Linked DNA regions of Homo sapiens. The protein of the gene in region 2 purifies or fractionates together with the protein of the main gene of each other region. This does not show direct contact. Each region holds a gene or a part of one and is shown on either strand. Other genes may lie near its edges.

The links.
Region 1: the proteins of ALG5 (region 2) and GDPD5 purify together in Homo sapiens (co-immunoprecipitation; one large-scale study listed by IntAct). This does not show direct contact.

What each region holds. Positions count from the first base shown.
Region 1 is NC_000011.10:75,438,635-75,442,449, reverse strand, and holds part of GDPD5 (glycerophosphodiester phosphodiesterase domain-containing protein 5), read left to right. Parts: coding exon 1-87; intron 88-646; coding exon 647-804; intron 805-1,139; coding exon 1,140-1,287; intron 1,288-2,488; coding exon 2,489-2,571; intron 2,572-3,815. UniProt on the Homo sapiens protein: Glycerophosphodiester phosphodiesterase that promotes neurite formation and drives spinal motor neuron differentiation.
Region 2 is NC_000013.11:36,964,682-36,968,496, forward strand, and holds part of ALG5 (dolichyl-phosphate beta-glucosyltransferase), read right to left. Parts: intron 3,127-3,815; exon of another isoform or gene 2,991-3,126; intron 1,046-2,990; coding exon 894-1,045; intron 1-893. UniProt on the Homo sapiens protein: Dolichyl-phosphate beta-glucosyltransferase that operates in the biosynthetic pathway of dolichol-linked oligosaccharides, the glycan precursors employed in protein asparagine (N)-glycosylation.

The DNA.
Region 1 (3,815 bases), on a different chromosome or scaffold from region 2:
GACCCGCCCCGGGAGCACCCCTACCGCAGCAGTTTTATCAACGTGACTCTGGAGGCCGTGCTGCACTCCGGCTTCCCCCAGCACCAGGTGAGGCCCTGCAACGCAGCTCTGCCCCCGGGAGCCCTGGCCTGGCTAGAGCCCTGCTGCTGCATAGCCTTTCCCTGTTGCACTCCGGACTTCAGCTTTCCCATTTGTAAAATGGGGATCACACACTGCTCACTTCCCTGGCAGGGTCATCATGGGACAAGAGGGGAACAAGAAAACACTTTAAAATGTATAAAGGTCCAGGCGGTCAAGTTATTTCAGTGAAGTGTTGCCCTGTCGTTTGGTGTAATAATCTGGGACCAGAGAAATCTGACATCAGTTTAGGACGGCACACTAGGTGCTAGTGGCCATGTGCAGAGTAGTGGCTGTTTGGGTTTTCCCTCCCGTACTGACAGCAGGCCAGAAGCGAAGTTTCCTGAGTTGCTGCCAGTGCACTTTGCAGCCTTGGCTGGGACTGAGTCCTGCCCTGCTAATGACTTCATCTAAGCTTTCACCGCCTGCCAGGTCCTGTCTCTTAACCCCACAGGTGCTCTAGGAGGAGTAGGTACTCTTACGCATCGTGCAGAAGAGAAGTCTGAGGCTGCCTCTCTTCTGCCTGCAGGTCATGTGGCTGCCTAGCAGGCAGAGGCCCCTGGTGCGGAAGGTGGCTCCCGGCTTCCAACAGACATCAGGCTCCAAGGAGGCAGTCGCCAGCCTGCGGAGAGGCCACATCCAGCGGCTGAACCTGCGCTACACTCAGGTGTCCCGCCAGGAGCTCAGGTGCCTGCCCTGCCCTGGGCTCCTCCAGGAGAGGGTGGGACTGAGTCTCTCCCAGTCCTGCCACCACCACCCCCCAACACACACACACACACACACACACACGGTCGGGCAGAGGGATGGGCACACAGAGGAATCAGGCACACATGGTTCAAAGACAAGAGGGTGAGCGTGTCGGGCAGACCCGGGCTTGTCCCGGAGCTTGGCCCTCTGGAGCCAATGTTCCTTGCCCCGGGCATGGCTGTGAGGTCGTGAACAGGACGTGCTTTACCAGCCCCGACACTGGGCCTGGAGCTGCCAGGGTCCGCATGCTGACCTGCCTCTCCCCTGCCCCACAGGGACTACGCGTCCTGGAACCTGAGTGTGAACCTCTACACAGTCAACGCACCGTGGCTCTTCTCCCTGCTGTGGTGTGCGGGGGTCCCATCCGTCACCTCTGACAACTCCCACGCCCTGTCCCAGGTGCCTTCCCCCCTCTGGATCATGGTGAGTTGGGGGGCAGAGGGCCCCTGGGGGGCAGTGCTGGAGCTGCCTATAGCCTGCCCTGACCACTCGGCAAGCTCTGTGCTTGGAGCTGTCCCTGGGAGGTCTCTAGCATGGTGGGGAGTCCATGGTGGGCGTGCAGGCTTGAGGCATGAGGGTTTCATGGCATCTGGGATCTGCACTAAGGTGCTGGGAGGACCCTGGGCCTCATCCACAGGGAGAAAAGCATCACTAAGGGCTCTAAAGAAGTAAAGAGCTGCTTGGGTTTCTTTGCTTTGGAGGGTAACAAGGACAGGAATAGGAAGCATTGACCGGGCGTGGGGCTCACGCCTATAATCCCAGCATTTTGGGAAGCAGAGGCAGGATGATCACTGGAGCCCAGGGGTACAAGACTAACCTGGGCAACCCTGTCTCTACAAAAAAAAATAATAATAATTAATTAATTTGCTGGCCAAGGTGGCACACGCCTGTAGTCCTAGCTACTCGGTAGGCTGAAGTGGGAGGATTGCTTGAGCCCAGCAGGTCAAAGCTGCAGTGAGCTGTGATCACTCCAGCCTGGATGACAAAGTGAGATCCTGTCTCAAAAAATAAAAATAAAAAAGAATAGGAAACAATTAAAATCTGCTCAGAGAACAGCAAATAAAGCAATATTTTAGCTGGTTGACTGGGCACCTGCAGATAGGTGGTGGCTCCACTGTCACCCTGAGCATGCAGAAGGCAGGTGGAGGGTATCCTTATGGCTGAGAGAATGCAGTGCCAATGAATCAGACCTAAGCTGTGGATGGTTCTATGGGAGAGGAGGGTGAAGGGAAGGCAGCCTGGGGAAAGGGTCGAGACCGATGGATGAGAGTCGGCAGCGGGGGGCGGCAAAGCCATTGTCTTTCAGTATCTGGCTCCTGCTTTGAGGACCCTAGACACACAGACCCTGCAGGCCTAGCACACAACCCCTCTGCCCTGAGCACCATACAGTCCCCTCCTACCCTGAGAGTGCACACGTGTGCACACACACGCCCCGGCCCCCAGGCCCACAGCGCCTGGAGCCTACACCTGCAAAATGTCATCTTCAGCCCCCAGACCCTCTCAGGGTCCTCCCTTGCCCTTCCCCAGTGGCCATGTGGGGTCCTTTGGTCCACGGACCCTCAGTCTGGAGCCTCAGTCTGGACTGGCCATGACTGGAAGTTGGCCTCGGGCCGTCTGTCCACAGCCCCCGGACGAGTACTGTCTCATGTGGGTCACTGCCGACCTGGTCTCCTTCACCCTCATCGTGGGCATCTTCGTGCTCCAGAAGTGAGTAGGATCTGACCACTTCCGTGGCTGTCCCTACCCTGCAGCAGGCCCAGCCCCCACCCCAGCCAGGTGAACCCTCTCCTGAGCCCTGGGCCTCAGCCAGGAGCAGGCCTGACCAGGGAAGAAGGACGGACTCCGGTGGCCCCATCCTCCCTCAGACAGAGGCTGGGTGACTTCTGGAATGAACATGCAGCTGGGATCCCAGAGCCAAGCTCTGCCTTGGGTGGCTATGTGGGCTTAGGTGAATTTCAGCTCCTCACCGGGCTGGCCTGCTCATCTGTTAGCCAGGGCATGGGTTCCCACCAGCCCTCAGCAAGATAGCTGGGGTGTGCTCGCAGTGGGGAGGTGTGGTTGGTCCCAGGGAGGGTCTAGGGCCAGCCTGGGGCCCCCACCCAGCCAGGAACCAAGGGGCTGGGATTTTATTCTTGACTGATGTTCTCTCTCTGTCCCATCCTGCTCTGATCGGCGCATGTCCCTCCTCTCTCCCCCTCCCCCTCTCTCTGCTGCACTCTGGCATCTCACAGCTATCACTTGATCAGGTAATTCTGGTGTGGTCTTCCTCCTCCTTCTGTTCCTCTTTCTCCCTCTTGCCATCCCTTCTCCAGTTCTGTCTAAAAACCCACCGTGCACCAAGCCCTGTGCCCGGGCCACCTCGCAGACAGCGCGCTCGCCTGAAGCCTCCCTTACCCCCGCAATCCTCTTTTCTGCTCCTCCCGTCCCACTGCCGTGTGTGTCCCTCTGCTCCCTGTTCCCACGGCCGTTTCTGCAGGTGGGGACCAGCGTTTCCTTGACAGCTTCCTGACCTGGCCCCTCTCTGCACCAAAGTGTCTCCCTGGGGGAGGGGACCCTGCCTGGGTACCCCCATCCCCCTGCCTCTGGCACTTACAGGGGCCTTCACCACTTGCCCAGGGCAGACCCTACCAAGTTTCTGCCTCTCTCTTCCCATCTTCTCCCTCCCTGGCTCTGCCTCTCCCACTGTTCACTCTTCCTGTTTACCTTTCTCTGCCTCTCCCATCTCTTTCTCTCTCTTCTTTACATTCTATCTCTAACACCCATCCCTGCTTTGCTCCCCGCAACACACAGCCTTTTCCTCATTCCCCTCAGAGGACCCCACAGTGGCTGAGCTTCCTGTTCTGGATATGCCTGGCCGAGAGACCCTGGCCTGACACTGTCCTTCTGGGTTTCAACATGAATTTCCAGGATGGGACCTAGAGCTTAGGGACCCACGTCTCCCTCCGTCTAGT
Region 2 (3,815 bases):
AATCGCAGCACTTTGGGTGGATCACCTGAGGTCAGGAGTTCAAGACCAGCCTGGCCAACATGGTGAAACCTCATCTCTACTAAAAATACAAAAACTAGCTGGGTGTGGTAGCGCCCACCTGTAATCCCAGCTACTTGGGAGGCTGAGGCAGGAGAATCACTTGAACGCGGGAGGCGGAGGTTGCAGTGAGCTGAAATCCTGCCATTGTACTCCATCCTGGGCAACAAGAGCGAAACTCAAAAAAAAAAAAAAATGATGAGGCATGGAAGAAAATCCATATGAAGAAGGTGGGGTGAGGAGTGAGTGGGAAGCAAGAAAACAAAGCCAGTGAATATAAAACACTTTTTCAAGAGAAGGTTGCTTGTGAAGGAGACAGGGCTAGAGCTGGAAGGGCACAGCAGGGTCAATGGAAAGGGTTCTGGGAAAGATGTGATGGAAGGGAAAAGGCTGAATACACAAGAGATGAAATACATGGACAGGATTAGGTTTTGACAAGGTGGAAGGAGATGTAGAGGTCAAAAGATCGGTCTTAGGAAAGACACCTTATCTTCCGTAGAAGGAAGAAAAGAGAAAATGGGTGCCCTATTCTGTTTTGATGTTTCTGAGCTTTTTCTTTTTTCTTCAAAGGAAAAAAAATGTTTTCAGGCCACTCAATTTCTACTGTCTACAATTAAGGTGAACACACATAACTTTATACCATATTGTTGGGTTTGTGTATTTTCAAAATAAGATCCAACTCAGGAAAAGTATAAAGGCAAGATCAAGTTTACATACATTATTGTCAATTTTGTTTAAATCTACATGTTCATTATAAATATACAGGGCTGTTTCTCATTACCTAGAAGATGGCTGGGTCATAAGACAGACTGGATACATTCCAGTCAGAAACCTACCATCGTTCAACGTGTAGAGATGAAAACGTCCGTGAAGCTGCTTCTCGAGTAAATAATTTGAACCCACACTGTGTGTCCCTGATTCCTTTGACACAAAGGAACCACACCAGAAAGTGGAACCCATACATGAGAAGAGTACGGAAGTAAGAACGCTGAAAACAAAGACAAAATATAAATGACTTTTCCATTCATCTGTAAAGGAGACACTGAAAACACCTGGCTGTAGACAACTGTATTTTAATATTTAATTGACTGGTAGATCTTACATAAGAACACCACTGTTCCATGAGCTTCACCAACAAAGTATATTAAAGAAACAGCAAGAATGCCTACTGCTTGGAGCAGAGTAGAGGCACTAGGAAGCAGTTACTCATTTCCTGGAGGTTGAGTCAGACAAGCGGCCAGGGCTTTAGCCTACCAGGAGAAACAGGTTTGGGGCTGCTGCTGTGAGCAAGGAGAACGTCTTGTTTACTTACATATTTTATGCTGCTTTGCCCCACATGTATTTCAGTTTCAAAAAAGCTGTCAGTTTCCAGGATGTATTGACAAAACAAAGCACAGATATAAGCCTGCAGTTGATACTTAACTAATGAGAATATTGACAGAAGATGTATAGCAGAGTATCATGAAGGTTATGGACTAGAAAGGAGTTTGAAACAAACACCTGGTCTTTCTAAGCATGCCAGAGATCTAATTAAATACATTTAAAATATTGAGTTCTTTAATACTTTGGATATTAAGATTAAGTAGGTTTTAATCCCATCTGAAGTTTCACTACTGTTACTGATGATTAATTTTATTAGTAGTAACAGAATATTCCATTATTCATAAAACATAGCACATTTTAAAACATAAGAACATAAGATTATTATCACTGGATTCCAGACTTTCACATTTAAGATTTAGTAAAAGATAGGATCTTTCTAAAAAATAAAATAACAAAATTTTTTTTAGAGACAGAGACGCCTTCTGTTGTCCAGGCTAGAGTCCAGTGGTGTGGTCATGGTTCACTGCAGCCTCAAATTCCTGGGATCAAGTGATCCTTCTGCCTCAACCTACAGAGCAGCTGGGATCACAGGCGTGTGCCACTATACCCAGCTTCTTTAAGACACGATCTTTTAAAATGTTCCTTAGTTAAGGCAATAGACTCAAGTAATGATGCGTTACTTACATACATAAGCAACCTATTAAGAGTCTATTAGAACATTTAATATCTCATACTATGGGATAAAGGTCCCTTCCTCCTTTTGGCTTTTGCTTTTCAAAATTATAATTTTTAGTATCGTTCTTCCTTTGCATGGCTTTTTCCATCAACACCAAACAGAACCACAGTGGAACAGAGTAACAAAGAAAAAGCACCAAATCAGGCGAGGTGCGGTGGCTCACACCTGTAATCCCAGCACTCTGGGAGGCCGAGGCAGGTGGATTGCTTGAGGTCAGGGGTTCAAGACCAGCCTGCCCAACATGGCGAAACCCCATCTCTACTAAAAATACAAAAATTAGCCAGGCATGGTGGCACACGCCTGTAGTCCCAGCTACTTAGGAGGCTGAGGCAGAAGAATCGCTTGAACTTGGGAGGCACAGGTTGCAATGAGCCGAGATGGCGCCACTGTACCCCAGCCTGGGTGACAGAGTGAGACTCCAACTCAAAAAAAAAAAAAAAGAAAAAAAGAAAAGAAAAGAAAAAGCACCAAACTAGGAGGCCTATATTGGAATCCTGGCTCCGTTACTAATTAGCAGGGTGACCTTCAACAAGTTACTTCAGCCCTCTAAGTCCATTTCCTGATAAAATGAGAATAATGCCTACCTCACAAAGTTATTATAAGGATTAAATGAGATTATTTTAAAGAATATAGCGAAGTGTTTGGCACAGAAAATAACAGGAACTCAATAATGTTCTTCATACAGGAAGAAAGCTTGAAAGCTTACTTTACTCTCCTGACCACAATTTTACTTATGTATTAAATAGGGCAGGAAGGAAAGGAAGAATAAAATACTTATCTATATGGTATGTAAAACAAACTTTTAAAAATGATCTAGCACTTCTCATTTATCATCTAGAATCATTAGTTATGGGTTGATGTAAATATGTCTTACCTCTCTAAGTAGATAGGGCAGAAACCTCATCTTAAAATACTTTAGGAATCTCACAACAGCTTGCTCAGTGCCTTCCATACAAAATACTTCCAATAAATACTGGTTGACTGATTAAACCTCCAAAAGAGCACTTATGCTTAGGAAAGGAACAAATAGAAATTGAAAGATAGAAAAATAAAAATTAAAGGTAGAAAAACAATACCTATAAATTATTCTCCTTGAGTGATTTTTAATGTGATTTGAGTGAGCTTATTTGTTCGCAAATAAAACTATTCATGACTGCTCTGGCTTGGATGTTAATAACAGGATTTTTGTTTGCTTTAGGATAATGGCTATTTTTTAAAAAGCAGAAAAATGTAGAGTTCACATGAAGACCTTAAGTTATTTGATTTCTAACATATTTAAAAGCTTAACAAGGTTAGTCACAAACAAGATAATCTTGTTTTTGTTTTTAGAACTTTGCAAAATATCTTAAAATTTAGAAGATACCTAAAATATAGGATAGACTTATTTAGTTAAGTGAAGCTACTAAAAGAGAGAAGGCTTATATGATCTTCTGAAATGGCCATTTAAAACATTAAGGAAAACAATTTTCACTGTTTCAGTGTTAACGCTAGTATCTTCAATGTTTATAAAATGTAAACAAGAAATTAATTCAGGTGAAATTTAAAGGTGACTTCTAATTTCATTAACTTAAAATAAGAAGTTCAAAGAAGTCCCAGGACTTAAGCAAAGACTCTTTAAACAAAAACTAAAAACATTAAGTAACCACTAATGGATTCTATTTTTGAATCCTTTTAAAATGATAAATTCAAGAATAGCCAG